2 linked regions of the Homo sapiens genome follow. The protein of the gene in region 2 interacts with the protein of the main gene of each other region in a biochemical or structural test. Each region holds a gene or a part of one and is shown on either strand. Other genes may lie near its edges. The genes, in order: TRIM72 and VSIG4.

Evidence for each region.
Region 1: the proteins of VSIG4 (region 2) and TRIM72 form a complex in vitro, tested with the Homo sapiens proteins (one study listed by BioGRID).

Annotation. Positions count from the first base shown.
Region 1 is NC_000016.10:31,217,105-31,224,230, forward strand, and holds part of TRIM72 (tripartite motif-containing protein 72), read left to right. Parts: exon of another isoform or gene 1-31; intron 32-1,990; coding exon 1,991-2,086; intron 2,087-2,184; coding exon 2,185-2,415; intron 2,416-3,791; coding exon 3,792-3,814; intron 3,815-5,722; coding exon 5,723-5,841; intron 5,842-7,076; coding exon 7,077-7,126. UniProt on the Homo sapiens protein: Muscle-specific E3 ubiquitin-protein ligase that plays a central role in cell membrane repair by nucleating the assembly of the repair machinery at injury sites.
Region 2 is NC_000023.11:66,022,211-66,030,391, reverse strand, and holds part of VSIG4 (V-set and immunoglobulin domain-containing protein 4 isoform 1 precursor), read left to right. Parts: intron 1-2,279; coding exon 2,280-2,342; intron 2,343-2,865; coding exon 2,866-2,943; intron 2,944-5,262; coding exon 5,263-5,367; intron 5,368-7,529; coding exon 7,530-7,551; coding exon of another isoform or gene 7,552-7,555; exon of another isoform or gene 7,556-7,891; coding exon 7,892-8,129; 3' UTR 8,130-8,181. UniProt on the Homo sapiens protein: Phagocytic receptor, strong negative regulator of T-cell proliferation and IL2 production. Potent inhibitor of the alternative complement pathway convertases.

The sequences.
Region 1 (7,126 bases), on a different chromosome or scaffold from region 2:
CCGCCCCCGGGGATGTCCCGGGAAGGAGACTGATCTGGCAGCTCCTATTCAACCCTGTGGCTCCTGCTGGGAGGGGACTCTGCAAACACCGCCTAGAGGGTCCCCCAGTTTCCCCTGGGAGAGTGGGGGCGCCAAATTGTTGAGGTGGGGATTGCTGTTCCCAATCTGCAGAGGAGGAAACAGGTTGCAAGTCATTGAGGCAGGAATGGAACTGATTCCATGGTCAGGCACCTCCCAGCAAAGAAGTGGCTTTGTAGCCTGGCATGGTTGCTCATGCTTGTAGTGCCAGCTACTCGGGAGGCTGAAGCAAAAGGATTGCTTGAGCCTAGGAGTTCGAGTTGTGATTCTGCCACTGCACTCCAGCCTAGGCAATCCTGTCTCCAAAAAAAAAAAAAAAAAAAAAAAAAATGGCTTTGGCAGGAGTATTGGGAGCTCTCCTATATTTGCATATTTGCATTTGAGGTCTTGGGTAAGATCTAGACCACAGAATGGTTGGTCTGTGCAGGGGACATTTTTTTTTTTTTTTTTGAAATGCAGTCTTGCTCTGTCGCCCAGGCTAGAGTGCAGTGGCACATTCTTGGCTCACTGCAACCTCCGCCTCCCTGGTTCAAGTGATTCTCCTGCCTCAGCCTCCCGAGTAGCTGGGATTACAGGCACTTGCCACAGCGCCCAGGTAATTTTTGTATTTTTAGTAGAAATGGGGTTTCACTATCTTGGTCTGGCTGGCCTTGAACTCCTGACCTCGTGATCCACCCGCCCTGGCCTCCCAAAGTGCTGGGATTACAGGTGTGAGCCACCACGCCCGGCCAGCAGGGGACATTTTAATTAAATTTCCTGCCCCCTACTCCAAGCCCATGTGTGTACAGGCAGGCTGACTTGGTGGTCAGGCTGACAGGCTGACTGAGGCTGATGTTCTGCTTTTAAGTAAGAGAGGAAGCCCAGGAGTAGGGGTAGGTTGCCTTTCTTCTTTCATATATCCTTCATGTACCCCCTGAGGTCTGTTGTGTGCCAAGCTCTGTGCCTGCCTGTCTGGTGGGAGAGACCAAACCACACTGATGTTTGTCATCCTCGCAAAGACCTGTGCTATGGGGCTGACTGCTGAGCAGAGGGGATCAGGGAAGGCAAGGCCAGGGAGGGGTCAACAAAACAGACAAGGGGCTGGGGGTGTGGCGGTTCATGCCTGTAATCCCAGCATGCTGGGAGGCTGAGGTGGGAGGATTGCTTGAGGCCAGGAGTTGGAGACCAGTCTGGGCAATATAGTGAGATTGTCTCTACAAAAATATTTTAAAAAATCATGGCCAGGAGTGGTGGCTCATGTCTAATCCCAGCACTTCGGGAGGCTGACGTGGGTGGATCACCTGAGGTCAGAAGTTTGAGACCAGCCTGGCCAACATGGTGAAACCCTGTCTCTACTAAAAATACCAAAATTAGCCAGGCGTGGTGGTGCACCAAAATTAGTCCCAGCTACTTGGGAGGCTGAGGCAGGAGAATCGCTTGAACCCAGGAGGTGGAGGTTGCAGTGAGCTGAGATTGTGCCACTGCACTGCATCCTGGGTGACAGAGCGAGACTCCAACTCAAAAAAAAAAAAATCAGAAAATTTGCTGGGCACGGTGGTGTGTGCCTATAGTTCCAGCTACTTGGGAGACTGAAGTGAGAGGGTCAATTAAGCCTGGGAAGTTGAAGCTGTAGTTAACTGTGATCATGCCACTGCTCCAGCCAGGGCAACAGTGTGAGACCCTGTCTCAAAACAAAACACCAAAATAAATAAATAAAAAACCGCACCAAAATAGACAAGGGGCAGGGGAAGCATTCGGACCTCAGGAGTAGCACTGGCTGGGGCTGGGAGGCATGTAAGTGGGTTTGGGGATGGGAAGATGGCTGGAGGAGGAGCTGGCATTGAGGTTGAGCCACAGAGGGCAGGTTTAGGATGGGAGGTGTGGGTTTTGGGTGGGTGGCATCCCCATCACTTCTCCATGCCTCGACCCCCAGACACAGCTGCCACAGCAGAAACTGCAGCTGCAGGAGGCATGCATGCGCAAGGAGAAGAGTGTGGCTGTGCTGGAGCATCAGCTGGTGGAGGTGGAGGTGAGGACTTCACAGGGCCATGTCTGAGGGCTGGGGGCCAGGCTAGGGGTCTCCAGCCAAGAGTCTTTATCCCTTCAATCACTGCCCCATCCCTGCAGGAGACAGTGCGTCAGTTCCGGGGGGCCGTGGGGGAGCAGCTGGGCAAGATGCGGGTGTTCCTGGCTGCACTGGAGGGCTCCTTGGACCGCGAGGCAGAGCGTGTACGGGGTGAGGCAGGGGTCGCCTTGCGCCGGGAGCTGGGGAGCCTGAACTCTTACCTGGAGCAGCTGCGGCAGATGGAGAAGGTCCTGGAGGAGGTGGCGGACAAGCCGCAGACTGAGTTCCTCATGGTGAGCACTGGGTGACCCCCCTCCCTGCCTCAGCCCCCTGCTCAGGGCCCAGAGACCTCATCCCATTGTCAGATAGGCCCAGAGAGGGGCAGGGATAAGCCAGCAGCACACAGCCGGGAGGGGCAGGCCTCAGGACTGCTATATGGTTGTTTAGGTTGAGCACTGCATAAGGACATTGTATTAAGTGAGCACTATTCATATCATAGACATTGTAGGTTTATATATTTATTAGGACACTCTTATTTTTATTTTTTATTTTTTGAGATGGAGTCTTACTCTGTCACCCAGGCTGGAGTGCAGTGGCAGGATCTTGGCTCACTGCAAGCTCCGCCTCCTGGGTTCATGCTATTCTCCTGCCTCAGCCTCCCGAGTAGCTGGGACTACAGGCACCCGCCACCACGCCTGGCTAATTTTTTCTATTTTTCAGTAGAGACAGGGTTTCACCGTGTTAGCCAGGATGGTCTTGATCTCCTGACCTTGTGATCCACCTGCCTTAGCCTCCCAAAGTGCTGGGATTACAGGCGTGAGCCACCGCGCCTGGTCTTTTTTTTAAAGGCAGGGTCTCACTCTGTCACCCAGGCTGGAGTGCAGTGGCATGATCATAGCTCACTGCAGCCTTGTAGGCTCAAGCAATCCTCCAATCTCAGCCTCCCATAGCTGGGACTACAGGCGCTTACCTGGCTAGTTTTTGTATTTTTAGTAGAGATGGGGGTCTCATTATGTTGCCCAGACTGGTCTCAAATGCCTGGGCTCAAACAATCTGCCTGCCTTGGCCTCCCAAAGTGCTGGGATTACAGGCATGAGTCACCGCACCCGGCCTATTAGGACAGTTTTCTAACAGGTGGAATCAGAGTTTCTTGGAGGCAAAGATACCTTTTTGTAATCCACATAAAAGTGAAGGGGTAGGGGTGGCCTTGAGTTCTAGGTCTCTTTTGCGTTTTTTTTTTTTTTTTTTTTTTTTTTTTTTGAGACAGGGCTTTGCTCTGTTGCCCAGGCTGGAGTGCAGTGGCATGACTTCGGCTCACTGAAACCTCCTTCTCCCGGGTTCAAGTGATTTTCGTGGCTCAGCCTCCCAAGTAGCTGGGATTACAGGTGCCTGCCACCATGCCCAGCTATTTTTTTTGTATTTTTAGTAGAGATGGGGTTTCACCATGTTGGCCAGGCTGGTCTCGAACTCCTGGCCTCAAGCAATCCACACACCTTGGCCTCCCAAAGTGTTGAGATTACAGGCATGAGCCACCTCGTCTGGCCTCTTTTAGCTTTTCTGATTCTTTCTGACGTTGCACTCAGCATTCCTAGTTGTCTACCCCATCCTCAAAAGTTTCCAGTGTCCCCACCATCGGCTTCACCACCATTCTCTTTTTCTCTCTCTCCAGAAATACTGCCTGGTGACCAGCAGGTGAGAGCAACCTGGCCCTGTCCCTTTGCCCGACTTGTCCCAGTCTTCTAGGGACACCAGCCGGCTCACTCTCCACTCACTATTGTGCCTGCACACCCGCAATTCAGTCTGCTGCCCCACCCCTGCCTGAACACAAGGTTGTAGACAGAAATGATCTGGAAGGATCCTTTCACTCAGGGACCTCCTAGATTGGTGCCGTGAGACACATGTGGGTGGGGACACAGGCGTCACTGTGTGCTCAGTGTGGCCGTTGAGGGAAAGAGGTGGCCAGGGATGGAGTGAATGTTTGAGTTGGGGCCTGGAGGGATGAACAGGAGCTGGCTAGGCAAAGCGTTGGGAGAAGAAGGGCATTGTGAGGAGAAAGGCATTGCGGGGAGAAGGGCATTGCTGAGAGAAGAAGGGTATTGCTGGGAGAAGAACATTGCTGGGAAAAGAAGGGCATTGCTGGGAGAAGGGCATTATGGGGAGAAGGGCATTGCGGGGAGAAGGGCACTGCTGGGAGAAGGGCATTGCTGGGAGAAGGGCATTTCTGGGAGAAGAAGGACATTGCTGGGAGAAGAAGGGCATTGCTGGGAGAAGGGCATTATGGGGAGAAGGGCATTGCAGGGAGAAGGGCATTGTGGGGAGAAGGGCATTGTGGGGAGAAGGGCACTGCGGGGAGAAGGGCATTGCTGGGGAGAAGGGCATTGGGAGAAGGGCATTGCTGGGAGAAGGGCATTGCTGGGAGAAGAAGGGCATTGCTAGGAGAAGGGCATTGCTGGGAGAAGAAGGGCATTGTGGGGAGAAGGGCATTGCGGGGAGAAAGGCATTGCTGGGAGAAGAAGCGCACTGTGGGGAGAAGGGCATTGCTGGGAGAAGGGCATTGCTGGGAGAAGGGCATTGCGGGGAGAAGGGTATTGCTGGGAGAAGAAGGGCATTGCAGAGAGAAGGGCATTGTGGGGAGAAGGGCATTGCAGGGAAAAGGGCGTTGCTGGGAGAAGGGTGTTGCTGGCAGAAGGGTGTTGCTGGGAGAAGGGCATTGCTGGGAGAAGGGTGTTGCTGGGAGAATGGCATTGCTGGGAGAGGGGACAGCCAGCGAGAGGGCTGGCGAGTGGGAGGGAAGAGGAAGCTGCGGTAGTAGGTGTGTGCACACTGGCGAAGCTGAGAGGCTTGGACCTTATCCCAACAGAAGGATTAAAAGAAAATGTAGTTGGGCCGGGTGCAGTGGCTCACGCCTGTCATCCAAGCACTTTGGGAGGCTGAGGCGGGCAGATCACCTGAGGTCAGCAGTTCGAGACTAGCCTGGCCAACATGGCAAAACCTCACCTCTACTAAAAACACAAAAATTAGCCAGGCATGGTGGTAGGCGCCTATAATCCCAGCTACTTGGTTGGCTGAGGCAGGAGAATTGCTTGAACTGGGGAGGCAGAGGCTGCAGTGAGCCAAGATCATGCCACTACACCCCAGCCTGGGTGATAGAGCCAGACTCAATCTCAAAAAAAAAAAAAAAAGACCAAAACCAAATAAACAGTGGTAAAATAATACATGTAACATAAAATTGACAATTTTCAGCTTCTTCTTCTTCTTTTTTTTTTTTTTTTAGACAGGATCTTGCTATGTTGCCCAGACTGGACTCAAATTTCTGAGCTCCAGTGAGCCTCCTGAGTCAGCCTCCCTGAGCAGCTGGGACTACACTCTACCTCGCTCATTTTAAGCATTTTTAAGTGTGCATTTAAATTCAGTGGTGCTAAGTACATTCACATTGTACAACCATCACCAGTGTTTATCTCCAGAATTTTCTCATCTTCCCAAACCAAAACTCCAAAGGAAGAGTTTTAAGCAGGGGTGCGATGTGGGGAGATCCTGGAATCCCCCCAGCCCTTGTCCTCCCCCCTCACACATGCCTCCCCTTCCCCTCCCCACCCCCAGGCTGCAGAAGATCCTGGCAGAGTCTCCCCCACCCGCCCGTCTGGACATCCAGCTGCCAATTATCTCAGATGACTTCAAATTCCAGGTGTGGAGGAAGATGTTCCGGGCTCTGATGCCAGGTACCGGGAGGGACTGGCTCAGGTTTGTGTGTGACCAGGCAGTTGATGGGAGGCCCTAGCCACCCTGGAGAGGCCTCCCAGTCCCAACTGGGGAGGCCACTGAAGGAGGTACCCATTGCCCCTTTGCCTCTGGACTGCCGCTGCAGTCCTCTAACCTGTGTTGGGAGGAGGGCCTTTGAGAGCATGGGGTTTGCAGTGGGTGACTGACATGAAAATGCTGCTGCTGTTGGTGGCACGGGACGCTGGGGCCTAGGTCTGAGCCACTGACTTGCTGTGTGATCCTTGGTCAGTCTCTGCCCCTCTCTGGACGGTGGAGATGATAAATCCTGCCAATTGGGGACTGAGGCTCTGCAGAGCTCCTGGAACCCTGGGGACTGGCCTGGGTCAGAGAGTGACTCTGGCGGCCTGTGGCTGGGGAGGCCCAAGGGCTCAGTTCCTCCCCCCAAGAGCTGGATGATGCAGGTTACAGAGCTCTGGGACATACACATTGCTGGGGCAGCCCTTCCTGCCTCAGCGCAGGTGGGAATGCAGACAGCCTCATTTTATTCAAGATAAAACTAAGGCTCAGAGACTGGGTCTAGGCTGATGTGAAGATCAGGCTCCTTGACCTTGGGCCTTGGGCCTTGTCTGGGCCTCAGATGGTGAGTCCCATGCCTTGTATCAATTTAGTCCTGTTGGCCAGGCTCGGTGGCTCACGCTTGTAATCCCAGAACTTTGGGAGGCCGAGGTGGGAGGATCACTTGAGCCCAGGAGTTGGAGACCAGCCTGGGCAACATAGTGAGAACACCTGTCTCTACAAAAACTTAAAAAAATTAGCCAGGTGTGGTGGCACGTGGCTGTAGTCCCAGCTACTTGGGAGATGGGAGATGGGAGGATTGCTTGAGCCTGGGAGTTGGAAGTTGCAGTGAGCCTAGGTTGCACCTGCGCTCCAGCCTGGGCGACAGAGTGAGACCCCGCCTCAAAAAAACAAAAAACAAAAACAAAAAACAACAACAATAACAACAACAAAAACAAAAAGAAAATGCAGGCCTGCCTGCAACCCTGGAGGGAAGCAATCATGGCCTCATCTCACAGCTGGGCAAACTGAAGTTGAGCCAGGTGTGATCTTGTGGCCCAAGCCCAGTGAGCAGAGATGCCAAGAGGATTAGGGGAGAGAAAGCTGGCCTGCAATTGGTTGGGAGAAGACCCCAGCGAGGCAGAAACCTAGGGTTTTCTGACCGTGTTCTCTCTGGCAGCGCTGGAGGAGCTGACCTTTGACCCGAGCTCTGCGCACCCGAGCCTGGTG
Region 2 (8,181 bases):
TATATATGTTATTTTTCAAAAATCTTTCTCTCCATCTGCCACCTCATCTCTCCTATGTTCACTACCAACCTTCTCACGAAGGTAGCTTCCACCAGCTGAACCTCTCAATTCATTCACCACAACATAACTTTGTAATTTGGGGTCATCATTAACCTCCATATCACCAAATCCCAAGACCTCTCCATTCATACTTTTCCTCCTCAACATCTGTGTAGCAGTGGATCCTGTTGGCCATTTCTTCCACCTCAATATTCTTTTAATCACTGCTATTGATGACACCAACTTATCTTGGTTCTTCTAAGACCTTCCTGAATGATCCTTCTGAGACACCTTTGTTGGCTCTTTTTTCATTCACTCCTTAATTGTAAATGTTCTCAAAGACTCAATTCTTATTCATCTCTGCATGTATTTCTATATTATCAGGAGATTTTATTTACTTCTGTGGCTTCAAATATCACCTGTAGTCTGATGACTCTCCAACCATAATATTATCTGTATTTATTTTTTCCTGACTGCTAGATCCCAGTGTCTAGTTACCTTCTGGACAGCTTCATTTCTAATTTCAGCGTGTTCAAAACTGATCGTACCTTTTACTCACCAAACCTGTTCCTCAAACCTGTTAGAAAACATAGCAGTACCTTTGACTCCTCCTTCTCTTTTACCTCGCATCGTCAAATAATCATCAATATTACCAAGTGCTGTGAATTCACCTACTGAATCAGATACCTTATTAGGCTCTTTCTTTCTCTTCCTATACCCTCATGGTCTCATATTCTTTTTTAAAAAACAATTTCAATCATCTTCTAAATGTTCTCCCCATGTTCATACATTCTTACGAAGTCATCAACTTATTCAATATTTATTGAGTATATATTTTATGTCACTAGATTATAAAATTCAAGAGTGCAGAATTCTACCTGTCTACTTCATTGCTGTTTTTCAGAGCCCAGCAAAGTATCTGGCACAAAGAAGACACTAGACACTAGATGAATACTGTATTTGTTAATGAATGGGGAAAATATGCTATTGCCTTACCTTTGAAAATCCTACCACACTGTTGTCAGAATTATTTCCAAAAAAAATAGACTGAACAATTTTTGCTTCCTTTCTCAAAAGGAAGTAAACCTTTCTCAAAAGGTGTAACCTTCTGTTACACCCCATGGATCTTTCCAACTAAAGAACAAAGCCCAAACCCTTTTAGTCTGTTTTCAGCCTACCTATCCAGACTTATCTACTAATATGTTTCGCCACATCTAAAACGGAGCATGCTGTTTCCTCTGCTAGCAAGAGGGAGAAGCTTATGGTTTTCTCATGTCTTTTCTGAGCAGGTACATGGCCCTGTGCTTGTGTGTGGCCTCCTAGTTTCCCAGAACTGTGTCAGAACTCTTCAAAATCCCTATGGAAATCTTATTCCTCAACCATTTTTAAGGCTATTTTGGTTAGTTTTTTTTGTTTTCTCGCCTATTATCCATTGCCTCAGGCAGCTGTGTGACAAATGCTACCCCATCCCTGGGGAGAGGCTCTTAGCACTGGGTGACCAATAAAACAAGTCTTTTGAGTCAGGTCTTTCAGGGAACCACCAGACAGGCCAAATAATGGCAATTATTCAAAAATGAAGTTTGTTGGGCTCACTCCAGCACCTGGAATGGGGTTGTATGTTCAAGATTACCTCTGAGGTAGAAGGGGTAAGGGGACTAGGAGAAGTTAAAACAGCACAAAGCTTGCTGTTCTTACCAAAACTGGGATATTTTTCTTCCATAAATCCTGTCTAAGGTGCTGCAAACCTTTGGCTATTTTGCAAAATTCTAAAAAAAAAAAAAAAAAAAAAAAAAAGTTGATTACGTCAAATTTTGCATTATTTCACTGATGTTGTTAAAGGGTAAATTTCTGGAGGTTATTATGTCACCATTTTCACTGATGTCACCCATTGCCACTTTCTTTATGATACTTCCCAAGTTTCTCTCAAGAGAATTAATTACTAGGTCTCAGTTAGAAGTTAGTAAAAATAAAATATATTTTCCCATCCAAGTTGACTGACTCTCTGAACTCTAGCTACAGGTTCCTTCGAGATCTATTAATCCTGGGTTAAAAACTCTGTCCTTGATTGATGTATGAAAGATGAACAAGCAACACAGGACTTACCAGCATCATGACAGAAGTGTTGAGGCAGGTCCAAGTATGGACCTGAATGGCCTTTACTTACTTCCTATTTCCCTAGGGCATTAAACTATTCACCAAAGGGTACCAGGTCCCTTCAATCGGTTCCCTTTTCCTTGCAGACTCCTCAAAGCTACTCAAGACCAAGACTGAGGCACCTACAACCATGACATACCCCTTGAAAGGTGAGTTTTGCTAGAGTCTGAGGAAGTAGTAGAGGTTCAAAATGGTGTCATCGTAGCCAAGAAAGGAATCACAATGCCATGGAATGGCTAATAAACAGTCACTTGGTTCCTCAGAGAGAACATAGCAGTAAAGGAATGGAAACAAAAGAAAGGTAACAATGATGAATATATACTCTTTTTTTGTGAAAACTTCTGAGGCAAAAGGAAAGAGAGGGTTAGAATTACTCCCATTGGAAATACAAAAAACAAGAACACTAAATTCTATTCTGCTCCTAGTTTGACTTGCTGTGTGACTTTGGGTACATTACCTCCCCTCGATGGGAATTCTTCTCACTGCCCACACCTAACAGTAAGAAATGAAGATGCCTTATCTCATGGTACTAGTGGTTGATAACATGGTCAGGTACCCTGGAAAGTACAGCACAAATGGCCAGGGAAGGACTCCAACCTTTGCAACCATCTCCTATCTCTCAACTTTTTGAAAGAAGAGAGACATCTCTGACCCTATTCTCTATATTCATAGCAACATCTACAGTGAAGCAGTCCTGGGACTGGACCACTGACATGGATGGCTACCTTGGAGAGACCAGTGCTGGGCCAGGTAGGAATATTGTCAGGATTTCTATCTTTTCTTCTTGACTCTAAGCTTTGTGACCAAAACTTTCCCTTATGCACACTGTTCTACAGCATTGAAATCTGCAAATCATTACCTGCTATGTGCCAAGCAATGGTCAAGGGCACTGAGGATGGGTAAAGTGGGTAGGATGTAGAGAGAGAGATACAGATCCAGAGATGAGCAAAGTCAGAGTGAGGTTAAGGGGAGTGATAAATGTGCCCTTTATTTAGTTCTCTGTTGTCATAGTAATATGCTTTCCAAACATTCTGAGCAAGAATATGGATAGGGACATTATGACATCATGACCTCAACCAGGTAAGGATAATGGCTGAGTGTCATTGCTTGAGCTCTTAACCAGGGCTCTTCAAGCCGCTTGAAGCTGATTTCTGATTCCTCCAAAGCCTTGAAAATTCCCAAGTCAGGGTCTCAGAGATTCAAATCCCAAATAAATCTTTTGTGTTTCACCTGCATCTGATAGTCAGTTGGTATGCCTTCACATGACTACATTGACTGTTGAAATAATAGAACACTCTCACACCAATTGATAATTAGCTGCTCCCCTTAACCCCTGAGCCCTCCATTATTACCTGGGGCTGCCTTGTCCCATTCCTCAGAACTCTCTAGACCACCCCCATGGTCATGCAACAAAAGGTATACCAAGGAATCTCTAAGACTCCAAGTCTACAGTAGGCATCTGTTGTGACTGGTTGGAATTAAATAGTTTGATAACTATCACTCCTGGTACTCATTCTCTGCCTGTGTATAATTGAGAGAGTGGACTTCCAAATGCTCTTTGTAACTCTCCATTCCTGATTGCAGAGTTTTTTGGCTATCCCTTGGCAGCACTCAAACCTGTTTTATGTTCCACATTTGCATTGCCATCTTTGGCTTCAAGATTTCCATAGCTCCGTTCCTCTCCGAGAAGAACATCTACTGGGAGAAGAGAAGTTAGAAATTGCCTCATAGGGAGTTGGTTTGGAAAAATGAGAAAATAACCTTGGGCAAAGTTATTAGATGTTGGGTCTGCGCCCTATTTTCTCTACCAAGTTTTTTAGTACTTGACTCTCTTCAAAAGAGAATATTTCTTCGATTTGTACCAGCTTATAACTTGAGCTCTCTCAGTCCCAACAAGACACTCTGAGGACCACAAATACTGGATTCCTAGGACACGATATCTTAGAGTCTCATGAAAACAAGCCAGTTGCAGCAACAAATCCTAAGTACACTGAGGTTCCTTTCCTCACGCCTCTCTATCCCCCCTGACCTAGCATCTTAGATTCAGAATATTATAGCTAAAAGTGCTTTAGACATCATCCAATCTTTTCATTGAACTTATGGGGTAACTAAGGCCTAGTGACAGTCAAAGTTTTGTCTAAGGTCACTGTATTCATTTTTCCATGGCTGCTGTAAAAACTTACCCCAAACCTAGTATCTTAAAACAGCATAAATATATTATCTTCCACTTCTGGAAATAAGTCTGACACAATTATCACTGAGCTAAAATCAAAATGTCAGTCAGCAAGGCTATGTTCCCTTTGGAGGGTTTGGAGAAGAATTAATTTCCTTGTCTTTCTTTTCTGGCTTCTAGAAGCTACCCACGTTCTTTGGCTCATGGCCCCCTTCCTCCATTTTCAAAACTAACAATGTAGCATTCTCAAATCTCTGTTCCTTTTTACTATGTAAACTAACATACTGACAGGTTCCAGGAATTTGGATGTGAATATCTTTAGAGGACCATTATTCTGCCTACCATAGTCATACAGAAAGTAAATAACAGATCTAGGACTGGAAGCCAAGTCCAGTTGATTCTTTCAGCTTTTAGGCATAATGGGAATATGTGTCTCAAGTGGCTCAGTGGAAATATGTTTTGAGAAAGAAGGAAGCTGGGGACTTGACCAGAGCGTGTGATGGGAAGAATCTTTGTGGCTAGAAGTAACTGACCAGAATCTTAATAAGGTATGTAGCATTTTTGGTGAAGCTGGAAAGTCAGGATATTATTTTCTTTTTTCTAAGGGAAGGTGAAAACCTTCTGTCTTGGCCCTATAGAAAGCATAGACAACTAGCTCAAATGCCCAGGCCAATCAGCCCACCAGTGAGTCTGGAAGAACCTGTTTACACATGGCATCTCTTTCTCAAGTCTTTCTCATGGGACTGGAGTTTTTTCTCTCTGGCTAGCTAAGAAGGTTAGGAGAATATGGAAAATGAAAAAGAAAAAGGCCTGGCTTAGTCTAGGCTGTTTCTTAGAGTTTTTGTTTCTGGCCTTATTTTCAATCAAATACCACTTGATCTTGTTTTACCCTCTAGGAAAGAGCCTGCCTGTCTTTGCCATCATCCTCATCATCTCCTTGTGCTGTATGGTGGTTTTTACCATGGCCTATATCATGCTCTGTCGGAAGACATCCCAACAAGGTTAGTGATGAATATGAGAAGGTGGCTTTGGCTCATTTGTTCTTTCTGTCAGTATACTTGAGCCTAAATTCTGTATCAGGCATTGTGTTAGGCACTTCAAGAAGCTCCCAGCCTAGTTTGGGAGTTAAGGTTGGGGTGCAGGGAGGCAGATGTTCGAGCAAACAATGGCATAAGACTTACAGAACTAAATGCACTAGGCTTTGGTACTCAGTGAAGTACAGCCATCTTTCTAACGAGTCATCTTGTAATGATGCAAGAGAAGGAGAAGTCACAATCCCTGGCCTCAAGTTGCTCACAATTTATTTAGGAGATTCAAGGTAGAAACATGGAATTTATCAATGACAATACATAGCAATAGAGGCTATGAGCTCAAAAACTAGAGAAGACAATTAATGCTAAAGGGATCCAGAGGAGAAGAGAGTAATTTAAGGCTTGGGTAATTAGCAAGGGATTTCAGAAGGAAGAATATCTTAGACCACATTTTGGAGGATGAAAACAAGTTGTAAGGAGACAGTATTTCAGGAAGAGAGAACTACATCAGCATAGTTGTTAGGGCCTAAAAGACAACTGAGAGTGGGGTCATCAATAAAGAAAATTTCTGTAGATGGGCAACAGGGAAGTACAGTGGGAAATGAAAGCTTATTCCTGATTATAGAAGGCCTTAAATGCCAGGTTAAATAATTTGGACTTTCTTCACTAGGCCTTGCAAGGGCACTAAATTTACCAAATTTTTCAAGCATGGAAGTGGCATAATGACAGCACAGTTGTCAGAGCCATTTAAAAACTATGAACCAACCGAGGAGGAAAAAAATTGGGATGCTTGTTTCTAAAAGAAAAAAATACTAGCTGTCTCTCAATGCCCAGTGCACTAGTCATGTTGCCTAGCATCAATTTGTCTTATTCTCTGTAGTATCTCTTACTCCCAAATAGCCTGGTTACTACCATGGATCTGATGGATTTCCATCACCAGAAGGGAGCCTTGAGTATCTCCTTCTCCCAGGTTTCAATTATAAGCTCTGGCTTTTGCCAGTTAGCATGTTTATCACCATGAGGCTGAACTTGATAGCACATGACTACAAACCCCAGGGGCACTAAAATGAAAGCATTTGCATATAGCCTTGATGAGGCTGGGCATAAGCGGTAACCACATTAAATTGTTTCTCTCTCAAAAACCTTCCATGGCTTCTTATGGCCCAGGGGATAAAGGTCAAAATGTAGCATTCTATTCAAGGCTCTCTGTGATGTGGGTCTAGCCAATTTTCTCAACCCACCACTTCCTTATACCTAGTCTCATTTCCAAAAATTCCTCTTTCCTATCTCTGTATAAGGGAGACAGCCTCAGAGCATCAATTTAATTTAACATAATTACTGAGCACCTATTGTGTGACAGGTGCTGAGCATATTAAGATGAAAAAGACACGACCCTTGCGGTACAGGTGCTCATAGGCCAATGGGCGAGTAAGACACAGAAATGCAGGGCTCTACCATAAGGCAGAAGTCCTGTGGCTTCCCTTGTTTACTTTGTTGTCATTTAATGCTTGCATTTCCAGTTGCATCCCTGAAAAATTATAAGCACCTAGAGGGCAGTACAAAGAAATATCTGTCTTTGCACCAACCTAAGCCTTTGAGCCTGTACGGAATATAGGACACTCCTCCTCCACAGACACTAGGGGGCAATGGTAACCAATACCATGGTTTTTCCTGGGTATATAGTGGGGGTGAGTGCATTTGGGAATGTCTTGGGTCACGGCCATCAGCATCAGGCTAATCCAGTCCCTTCTTCCTGGTATGTGGCCTGACAGTCAAGTTTCCCACAAGGACTCTCTGGGGATCCTTGGGGGAGATTCCTGGGTAAAGAGCAAGTCCAGTTCTAGTGCCCTCCCCCAACCCATACCGAGAAACTGCTCCAGCCCAATATCCTGAGTCCAAGATGACAAAAAGGATAGTGACCAAATGTGCTTCCCCTTCTTTTACCTGATAAATTTGCATCTCTGTGTTTCAATTCACCTCCCCAATACCTCCCAGTTGTTGGAAAGCTAAGACATATTAAAATCCCCTCCTCTGTACCCTTCCCTCATCTTTTGACTGGTACCCAGGATCCATGATTGACCTTTGTCCACTTGCCATGAAAACTTCTGACATGATTCCTCCTTTTTTTCTAGAGCATGTCTACGAAGCAGCCAGGTAAGAAAGTCTCTCCTCTTCCATTTTTGACCCCGTCCCTGCCCTCAATTTTGATTACTGGCAGGAAATGTGGAGGAAGGGGGGTGTGGCACAGACCCAATCCTAAGGCCGGAGGCCTTCAGGGTCAGGACATAGCTGCCTTCCCTCTCTCAGGCACCTTCTGAGGTTGTTTTGGCCCTCTGAACACAAAGGATAATTTAGATCCATCTGCCTTCTGCTTCCAGAATCCCTGGGTGGTAGGATCCTGATAATTAATTGGCAAGAATTGAGGCAGAAGGGTGGGAAACCAGGACCACAGCCCCAAGTCCCTTCTTATGGGTGGTGGGCTCTTGGGCCATAGGGCACATGCCAGAGAGGCCAACGACTCTGGAGAAACCATGAGGGTGGCCATCTTCGCAAGTGGCTGCTCCAGTGATGAGCCAACTTCCCAGAATCTGGGCAACAACTACTCTGATGAGCCCTGCATAGGACAGGAGTACCAGATCATCGCCCAGATCAATGGCAACTACGCCCGCCTGCTGGACACAGTTCCTCTGGATTATGAGTTTCTGGCCACTGAGGGCAAAAGTGTCTGTTAAAAATGCCCCATTAGGCCAGGATCTGCTGACATAATTGCCTAGTCAGTCCTTG